Regions from separate parts of the Homo sapiens genome. Here region 1 is linked to region 2. Evidence: fine-mapped QTL for protein levels in blood plasma. A gene starts in region 2. The other region holds a variant in brackets. All regions are shown on one strand. Distances are from middle to middle. Region 1 overlaps EPS8L2 (EPS8 signaling adaptor L2). Region 2 holds the start of TALDO1 (transaldolase 1).

Evidence for each region. PIP is the chance, under the fine-mapping model, that this variant and not a neighbour inherited with it causes the effect. The UK Biobank Pharma Proteomics Project read protein levels with antibody pairs (Olink). The fine-mapping took linkage between variants from a reference panel, not from the people measured, so its PIPs are less certain.
Region 1: its variant is fine-mapped to the plasma level of the TALDO1 protein (UK Biobank, PIP above 0.99).

The regions. Positions count from the first base shown.
Region 1 is chr11:709,604-713,919 of GRCh38, forward strand. EPS8L2 (EPS8 signaling adaptor L2) reads left to right here. Exons shown (of 21, transcript NM_022772.4): 3 at 1-5; 4 at 819-883. Among named protein-coding and RNA genes, the nearest start is that of EPS8L2, 5.5 kb to the left of the region's middle. RefSeq lists an enhancer at 106-1,033. The variant G/T (reference allele first, on the strand shown) is at 1,466.
Region 2 is chr11:744,937-749,310 of GRCh38, forward strand. It overlaps TALDO1 (transaldolase 1), which reads left to right and starts at 2,528. Exons shown (of 8, transcript NM_006755.2): 1 at 2,528-2,642. The coding sequence starts at 2,546. It overlaps LOC105376509 (a long non-coding RNA gene), which reads left to right. Exons shown (of 3, transcript XR_930962.3): 3 at 1,813-2,026. RefSeq lists enhancers at 1,512-2,160, 1,799-1,858, 2,161-2,809 and silencers at 1,989-2,588, 2,649-2,938, 3,039-3,128.

The DNA of each region.
Region 1 (4,316 bases), 35 kb before region 2:
GTTTGGTGAGTGAGGTTTGAGAACGGGCTGGACGTCACAGGGGAGAAATGGGCACTGCATCCAGGTGGGGGACAGCTGCTCCTGCCCCACAGCTGTGCCTGGTCTGGCCCAGGGGATCTCCGGGTGCCCAGGGAGGCCTCTGGACCCTAATCAACCTTCCGAAAGCTCCTGGCCACTGGATCCCCTCCCCCACACCCGTAAGGGGAGAGGCCTTTACTAATAATTCAGGGAGCATCAATATTGATTCCGCTGCACTCATTGCTGTAACCTGATCACAGCGAGGTTCAGGCAGGATAAGCCGCCAGGTGTCTGCTCCAGGAGGGGGGCCTGGCCAGCCCCCACCTCCCCCCACTCTGCCCTTCCCCAGAGACGACCCTGCCCTCTCGCTAGCTAGATGCACCCTTCACTTATGTCTTTGGACAAGGTGCCTAGTCTGGAAAGCGAGAAGACCTGGGAGGGCAGGGAGAGTGAAGCTGGCAGCTCTCAGAGTGGGAAGAAGCCGGGCTGGGACCCCCTTCCTGTCCCCTCACCCTCCGGGACAGAAACCCCCCGGGCACAGGCTGCTGGTCCCCACTCCACTCAGAGCAAGCCCATCGCCTTCTCCGAGCTGCGTCCTTCTCCAAGGGGGCTTCCCTGGAGGGAGGGAGGGGGCTTCCTGCAGGTCCTGATTTCACACCCACATCCTTCCTGGTGGCCAAGAGGTCCACGGAGCAGCCTCCCTCCGCTTGACTCCACCTTCCCTTGTGGGTCCAGTCCCAACTGGACGGGAGGCTGTGGGTCCTGCCCGTCGGGGGAGTGACTGGTGTCTCCCGGTTCAGAGCAGAGGAAGAAGTATTCCAACTCCAACGTCATCATGCACGAGACCTCGCAGTACCACGTCCAGGTAAGGCCCCGCCCCCAGGTAGGCTCCGCCCCCAGGGAGCACCCTCAGGACATGGCTGTCCTCAGGTTCTCGTCTCCACAAAAAATAAAATAATTAGACGGGCATGGTGGTGCCGGCCTGTAGGCCCTGCTACTGGGGAGGCTGAGGCGAGGGGGTCACTTGAGCCCGGGAGGCGGAGGCTGTAGTGAGCCAAGATCGCACCACTGCACTCCAGCCTGGGCACCTGGGTGACAGAGCTAGACCCTGTCTCAAAACGAAAGAGAGAAAGAGAGAAAGAGAGAAAGGGAGGAAGGGAGGAAGGGAGGAAAGCTCCAGGGAGAGTGGTCAGCCCAGCTTCTGACACCCACGGGGCCGGGGGAGGCCAGAGCCAGAACTGCCCACACTGTCCCGGGCTCAGCCACGGGGCCGGGGAAAGCGCCCCTCTGGTTCCAGTCCTGGGAACTCGCGGCCTGGGGGGTGAGGCAGCCCAGGGTGTGCCGGGAAAACACTGTGGCTGCTGCCCAGCCCTGGATGGGAAGAGCCCCTGGAGGAGATGATCATCCTGGCCCCAAAACGAGGAACTGTATCGGGAGGGAGCAGGCA[G/T]AACAAAGACGCCCTTGATGGGGGATTCAGGGAGGCCCGGGCTGCTTCTCAGGGCTCAGACGGGGCTGCCTGCACGCGCCGGACCAGCCGCCAGCCCTGAGGGCTTTTCTGTTCTCCTAGGTCAGTTTCATTGACACGGAGAACTCAGGAAATGTTTTTTTGGGGGGTTTTGTGTGCGTGTGTGCGTGTGTGCGTGCGTGCGTGTGTGTGTGTGTGTGTGTGTCTTTTTTTCTTCCTTTCTTTCTCTCTCTCTCTGTCTCTCTCTTTTCTTTTCTTTCTTTCATTTTGAGACAGGGTCTAGCTCTGTCACCCAGGTGCCCAGGCTGGAGTGCAGTGGTGCGATCTTGGCTCACTACAGCCTCCGCCTCCTGGACTCAAGTGATCCCCTCACCTCAGCCTCCCCAGTAGCTGGGCCTACAGGCTGGCCCCACCATGCCCATCTAATTATTTTATTTTTTTGTGGAGATGGAAGTCTCCCTATGTTGCCCAGGCTGGTCTCAAACTCCTAGGCTCAAGCAATCCTCCCCCCTCCTAGCCAGGCCTGGTAGTGTGAGCTCGTAGTCCAGCTACTTGGGAGGCTCAGGCAGGAGGATCCCACCACGGCCCTCCAGCAGCCTGGGCAACAGAGTCTTAGGCCAGGCGCGGTGGCTCACGCCTGTAATCCCAGCACTTTGGGAGGCTGAGGTGAGTGGATCATCTGAGGTTAGGAGTTTGAGACCAGCCTGACCAACATGGCAAAACCTCATGTCTACTGAAAATACAAAATTAGCCAGGCGTCGTGGTGCATACCTATAATCCCAGCTACTCGGGAGGCTGAGGCAGGAGAATCACTGGAACCCAGGAGGCGGAGGTTGCAGTGAGCCGAGATCACACCACTGCACTCCAGCATGGGCAACAGAGCGAGACTCCATCTCAAAAAAGAGAAAAAAAAAAGGGACCAGGCGCGGTTGTTCATACCTGTAATCCCAGCACTTTGGGAGGCCGAGGCGGGTGGATCACCTGACGTCAGGAGTTCGAGACCAGCCTGACCAACATGGTGAAACCCCATCTCTACTAAAACTACAAAACTTAGCTGGACGTGGTGGTGGGAGCCTGTAGTCCCAGCTACTTGGGAAGCTGAGACAGGAGAATCACTAGAACCCGGGAAATGGAGGTTGCAGTGAGCCGGGATTGCGCCACTGCACTCCAGCCTGGGGGACAGGGCGAGACTCCATCTCAAAAGGAAAAAAAAAAAGGCCCCTGCGCCTGGGTACGAGCTGGGCTCCCGGTTGTGGTCCAAGCCTGGGTGCGAGCTGGGCTCCCGGTTGTGGTCCAAGCCTGGGTGCGAGCTGGGCTCCCGGTTGTCGTCCAAGCCTGGGTGCGAGCTGGGCTCCCGGTTGTCGTCCAAGCCTGGGTGCGAGCTGGGCTCCCGGTTGTCGTCCAAGCCTGGGTGCGAGCTGGGCTTCCGGTTGTGGTCCAAGCCTACAGGACTAGGAAAAGGAGGGAGGGTGAGGGAGCCTGGAGCTGGGTCCTCCTGCAGGACCAGTCCTTTCTGCCACAAACAGCCCTGGCTGGGGGCCCAAAATGCCCCCTGGTTCCCCCTTGCTGTCCTCCACACCTGCAGAGGTGAGACAGGTCACTACTCTTTGAGCCTCAGTTTCCTCGTCTGTACAATGGGTCCAAAGAGCCATCAGGAGTCCCTGAGCTCTTGAATCGGGCTGTTTTGGGTGACCAGGGCCCTCCCAGCAGCCTGGGCAGCTAGACCCTGCATACAGCCAGGCTGGTGACTTCGGCCAGCTCAGTGTCCAGGGGAAGGCACAGAGCAGTGGCCGAGTTCACTTTAGTCCCCTCTTCCTGGGCAGCTCCACCACCTTTCTCAGGGACTCTGCCCTCTTCGGGAGGAGCCTGGGGCCTCTCAGCCTGGCTCCTGGACTTTGGCCCCAGCTGGCCTGGCCTGGCCCCCAGCCAGCAGGAGCCTCGTCTGCCCAGAGGCCAACAGAGTGAGGAGTGGAGGGTGGGTGGGGCTTTCCTGCCTCTCCCCGATGAGGACACTGGGGACCAGAGAGAGGGTGAGAGTCTGGTGGGAAGTCTCTCCAGCCAGGTGGGGGCCGGATCAGATTGGCCCTGACAGTGGGTGGGGGGCACCTGAGCCCGGGTCCATGGTTTGCTTTTTTCTAAGTTATCACACAGTAAAAGCCATGTGTACGTGGGGGTGTGGTTCTGTTGCCACCATAGTCGACCCATCAGCCCCATCACTCCAAACCTGTGAATCCCCGACCTTGGTGGCTACCCCCAACCTCTGGCAACACCTGCCTGCCTTCATCACCACAGTTTCTGTTTGTTTGTGTGTTTGAGACGGAGTCTCGCTCTGTCACCCAGGCTGGAGTGCAATGGCGCGATCTCAGCTCACTGCAACCTCTGCCTCCCAGGTTCAAACCATTCTCCTGCCTCAGCCTCCTGAGTAGCTGGGACTACAGGCGCCCGCCACCACGCCTGGCTAAATTTTTTTTTCTCTGAGACAGAGTCTCACCCTGTCACCTAGGCTGGAGTGCGGTGGCGTGATCTTGGTTCACTGCAACCTCCGCCTCAAGGGTTCAAGTGATTCTCCTGCCTCAGCCTCCCCAGTACCTGGGATTACAGGCACGCACCACCACACCCAGCTAATTTTTTATATCTTTAGCAGAGATGGGGTTTCACCATGTTGGCCAGGCTGGTCTTGAACTCCTGACCTCAATTGATCCACCCACCTCAGCCTCCCAAAGTGGTGGGATTACAGGCGTGAGCCACCGTGCCTGGCCTAATTTTTGTATTTTTAGTACAGATGGGGTTTCACCATGTTGGCCAGGCTGGTCCCCAACGCCTGACCTCAAGT
Region 2 (4,374 bases):
AGGTCAGGAGATTGAGACCATCCTGGCTAACACGGTGAAACTCTGTCTCTACTAAAAATACAAAAGTTAGCTGGGCGTTGGCCGGGCGCAGTTGCTTAACACCTGTAATCCCAGCACTTTGGGAGGCCGAGGCAGGTGGAACACGAGGTCAGGAGTTTGAGATCAGCCTGGGCAACACGGTGAAACCCCGTCTCTACTAAAAATACAAAAGTAGCCGGGCATGGTGGCCCATGCCTGTAATCCCAGCTACTCGGGAGGCTGAGGCAGGAGAATCGCTTGAACCTGGGAGGCGGAGGATGCGGTGAGCTGAGATCGCGCCATTGCACTCCAGCCTGGGCAACAAGAGTAAATCTCCATCTCACCAGAAAAAAAAAAAAATTTGTCACTTTGGAGCAAGCAAAGACTCCTTAGAGAAGATACCAAAAAAGAGGAGTAAATATAAAATTAAAACTTGATAAATTGAACTTAATCAAAATAAAAAGCTAACGTTCATTAAAGACACTATTAAAATGAAAAGGGAACACATGCTGAGAGGAAGTATTGAAACCACCTTTGCAAAATTATAACTAAGGAAATTATGACAGTGAAAGATAACAGACTTAACCAATTCCATCTTGTTTCTAACCTTCAAACGGTCCTTGTCCATTACTGGCCATAGGCCAAACAAGTCTTGGGAAGGAATTTAATTTATAGTTTAAATAATAGCCCTTCCCCAAAACTAGACTGTTCTTGTAAAATGAATGAAAGGCCACCAGCCACCAAGTTAGAATGAGAGGGGCTGGAAGTCTAAATATTATCAGCCATTATTCTGGAGGTCATAAGATAAGATTTGCAACTTCCCCAAGATATCAACACTACTGTGAACCTAGGGTTGGCCTTTTTTTTTTTTTTAAATGGAGTCTCGTTCTGTAGCCCAGGTTAGTGTACAGAGGGACAATCTCGGCTCACTGCAACCTCCACCTCCCAGGTTCAAGCCATTCTCCTGCCTCAGCCTCCCAAGTAGCTGGGATTACAGCCATGTGCCACCACGCCTGGCTAATTTTGTATTTTTAGTAGAGACGGGGTTTTGCATGTTGGCCACGCTGGTCTCCAACTCCTGACCTCAAGTGATCGCCTGCTTTGGCCTTTCAATGTGCTGGGATTCCAGGCCTGAGCCACCGCGTCAGCCTAGGATTTGCCTTTTAAGAAGTCTTTTCCGCCGGGCGCGGTGGCTCACGCCTGGAATCCCAGCACTTTGGGAGACTGAGGTGGGCGGATCACGAGGTCAGGAGATCGAGACCATGCTGGCCAACATGATGAAACCCCGTCTGTACTAAAAATACAAAAATTAGCCGGGCGTGGTGGTGAGCGCCTGTAATTCCAGCTACTCGGGAGGCTGAGGCAGGAAAATCGCTCGAACCCGGGAGGCGGAGGTTGTAGTTAGCCAAGATCGCGCCACTGCACTCCAGCCTGGGCAACAAGGGCGAGATTCCGTCTCAAAAAAAAAAAAAAGTCTTTTCAGGTTTTTGCATTTCTGACAACCGGATGGCCCCACCTGGACCTGCCAACCAGTTGTGTGGCCTCTACCCAGGGACTGACTCAGCATAAGCGGACAGCTTCGACTCCCTGTGATTTCATCCCTAGCTGACCAGTCAGCACTTCTGACTCACTGGCCCCCTACCCACCAAATTATTCTTAAATACTGGGATCCCCGAGTTTTGGGGAGACTGATTTGAGGAATAAAACTCTGGTCTCCCGAACAATCGGCTCTGTGTGAATTATGCTTTCTCTATTGCAATTCCCCTGTCTTGACAATAGACTCTGTCCCGGCAGCTGGCAAGGCGAACCCATGGGGCGGTTACAGTGTCTGCAACGCAGACACAAGCGACAGAGACTTGATCAGAATATACAAGGAACTCTGCAAGTCAGCGATGGTAAGAAGCAGGGCAGCTGGGCCTCCTACGCCTGCCTCGCCGTTCGGTCCCCCGGACACCTCTGGGCTTAGGACTCAGGGGAACAGATTCCCAGAAGCAGGTTCCCCGCCGCGTCCGGCGCCCGGGCTCTGCAGCCGCCCCCTGCTCTGCCTCCTGCACCCGCAGGGCGTCCCCCGCCGCTCCCTCCCCTGCTTCCTGCAGCGGCCCCCGACCCCAGTCCTGGCCCCACCATGGATCCTGCATCGCCGGGTTCGGCCCTGGCGGGTTCAGCCCCGCAGAGTCGGCACCCGGGCCAGGTCCATCTCCTCCAGCCCTCCCGGTGCGTCCCGCGGGGCAGGAAGGAGGCGAGGCCCAGCCGCCCCGTGTCGTGCAGGTGTTTTCCCGGGCCCGTCCGCGGCGGCTGCTGAGGACCTGGGGAGACCCAGCCTGTAGGATCCGCAGCTGCGGTGCGCGGCCGGCAGTGGCGCTCGGGCTTCGTCCCCGGGGGCGGGGCTTCGTCCAGGCGCGCAGGGACCAGCGGGCCTCGCCCTCCCGCGCCGCTTTCCGATTGGCAGCCGCCCGCGGGGCATTGTGGGCCGTCCGCGCGCCCGTCCCGTCGCCGCCGCCGCCGCCGCAGACCCCTCGGTCTTGCTATGTCGAGCTCACCCGTGAAGCGTCAGAGGATGGAGTCCGCGCTGGACCAGCTCAAGCAGTTCACCACCGTGGTGGCCGACACGGGCGACTTCCACGGTGAGGACGGCGCGGAGCCCGGGCGCGGCGCAAGCGCCCTCCAGAGGCCCCGGCGCCCCGATTTCCCCGGGTCTCCCGTTCCGGGACGCGGACCGGGTGGCGGTGCCCCGGGCGGCTCGTTCCGGGAGGAATGAGCGCAGGTGCCGGATGTTGGGGCCAGGGACAGCCGTGAGGGGAGCGGGGCCCGGGTCGGCCGTGAGAGGCGCAGGGCCAGCGGCGACCGTGAGGGGAACGGGGCCCGGGTCGGCCGTGAGGGAGCAGGGCCGGGGGCAGCCGTGAGGAGCTGGGGTCAGCCGTGAGGGGCTCGGTGCTGGGGTCAGCGGTGCGGGCGGTACTGACGGGTCCTTGCGAGCCGTGGGGCACGAAGCCGGAGCCCCAGCCTCGCCCTCCGCCCAGGGTGGGGTCGGCTGCGCCCTCAGACCCCGCACCCGGGACGGGCTGTGGGCAGCCCGCGGGAGCCCCTCTGTGCACCTTCATGGGTCGAGGCAGCTTTCAGAGCCTTTGAGTTCAGGAGAGATTCAGGGTAGAGCTTCGAGCTGACTTCCACGTGGCCAGTTTGTGGTCAGCGAGATGCAATTTTGTTGGGCTGATGTCTGCAGAGCGGGGACATCAGCTAGCTCTGACCAGAAGCTGCCAGTGCTGCCATCGCCCTTGAGCCCTGCGGTGCCCAGTGGGACAACTCCGTGGGCGGCAGGTGCCCGGCCTGCTGGACAGCCACCGCCAGACGCACCGGGTGGGTAAAAGCCGGTGCCCATGAAAGCACAGGGTTGGTACACTGTTAAATACTGGATTTTCCTGGGCTTGAGTTGTTTACATTGGAGAGAACTTGGAAAATACAAAGAAGGATTATTTATTAATACTTAGCTCTTCTGTCCTCTGCAGTGCAGAGTAGACGAGCCTTGTGTCTATGTTTTGTTGAGAACAAGTAATATTTTTTAAGAAAATCATGAAACGCTTCATGGATGAATGCTGCGAGCACCTAATACGGAAGTGACTTCCTCTCTTTTCTGCTTTCTCATGGTGACTTGAGAAACAGGCTTTAATTCCTCTTTGGTAACTGAGTAAGGGCATTGTTTATCTAGCAGAGCCTAGAGAGTGAATTGGCATGTTTGGCTGCTTAACCATAAAATATGGGGATTCAGTGACTGGCTTGGGGTGCCACAGTCTGCTCCGGACCCCTCTTTGGGAGATCCAAAGCTAGAGCTGTGAATCCCTCACACACACAGCCCCCCCGTTGTAGTCCAGACCTCTCTTCATAAGAAAGAAAGCTCCAGAAAAGGGGCTACACATTTTTCTGCTGCTCAGTTTTTTCCCTTCTTAGCACTGAGAATAATTTGCAGTTTGCCTGGTGGACAGAGCGCTCATCTGTATTGTTCCTTACTGGCCCTCACCAGTTAGGGCAGAGCTGGTGCGGAGTGTCAGGTCCATTACACTTGGCAGTGCAGGGCCAATAAAGATGGATTTTCCTAAACCCACACCCACAGGAGGGCTGGGGAGTCCTGGGTTTCTGGTTTTGTTTTGTATTGTTTTTTAAGAAAACTTCTGGCCCAGCGAGGTGGCTCACGCCTGTAATCCCAGCACTTTGGGAGGTTGAGGCAGGTGGATCACGAGGTCAGGAGTTCGAGACCAGCCTGACCAACATGGTGAAACCCCGTCTCTACTAAAAATACAAAAATTAGCTGGGTGCGGTGTTGCATGCTTGTAATCCCAGCTACTTGGGAGGCTGAGGCAG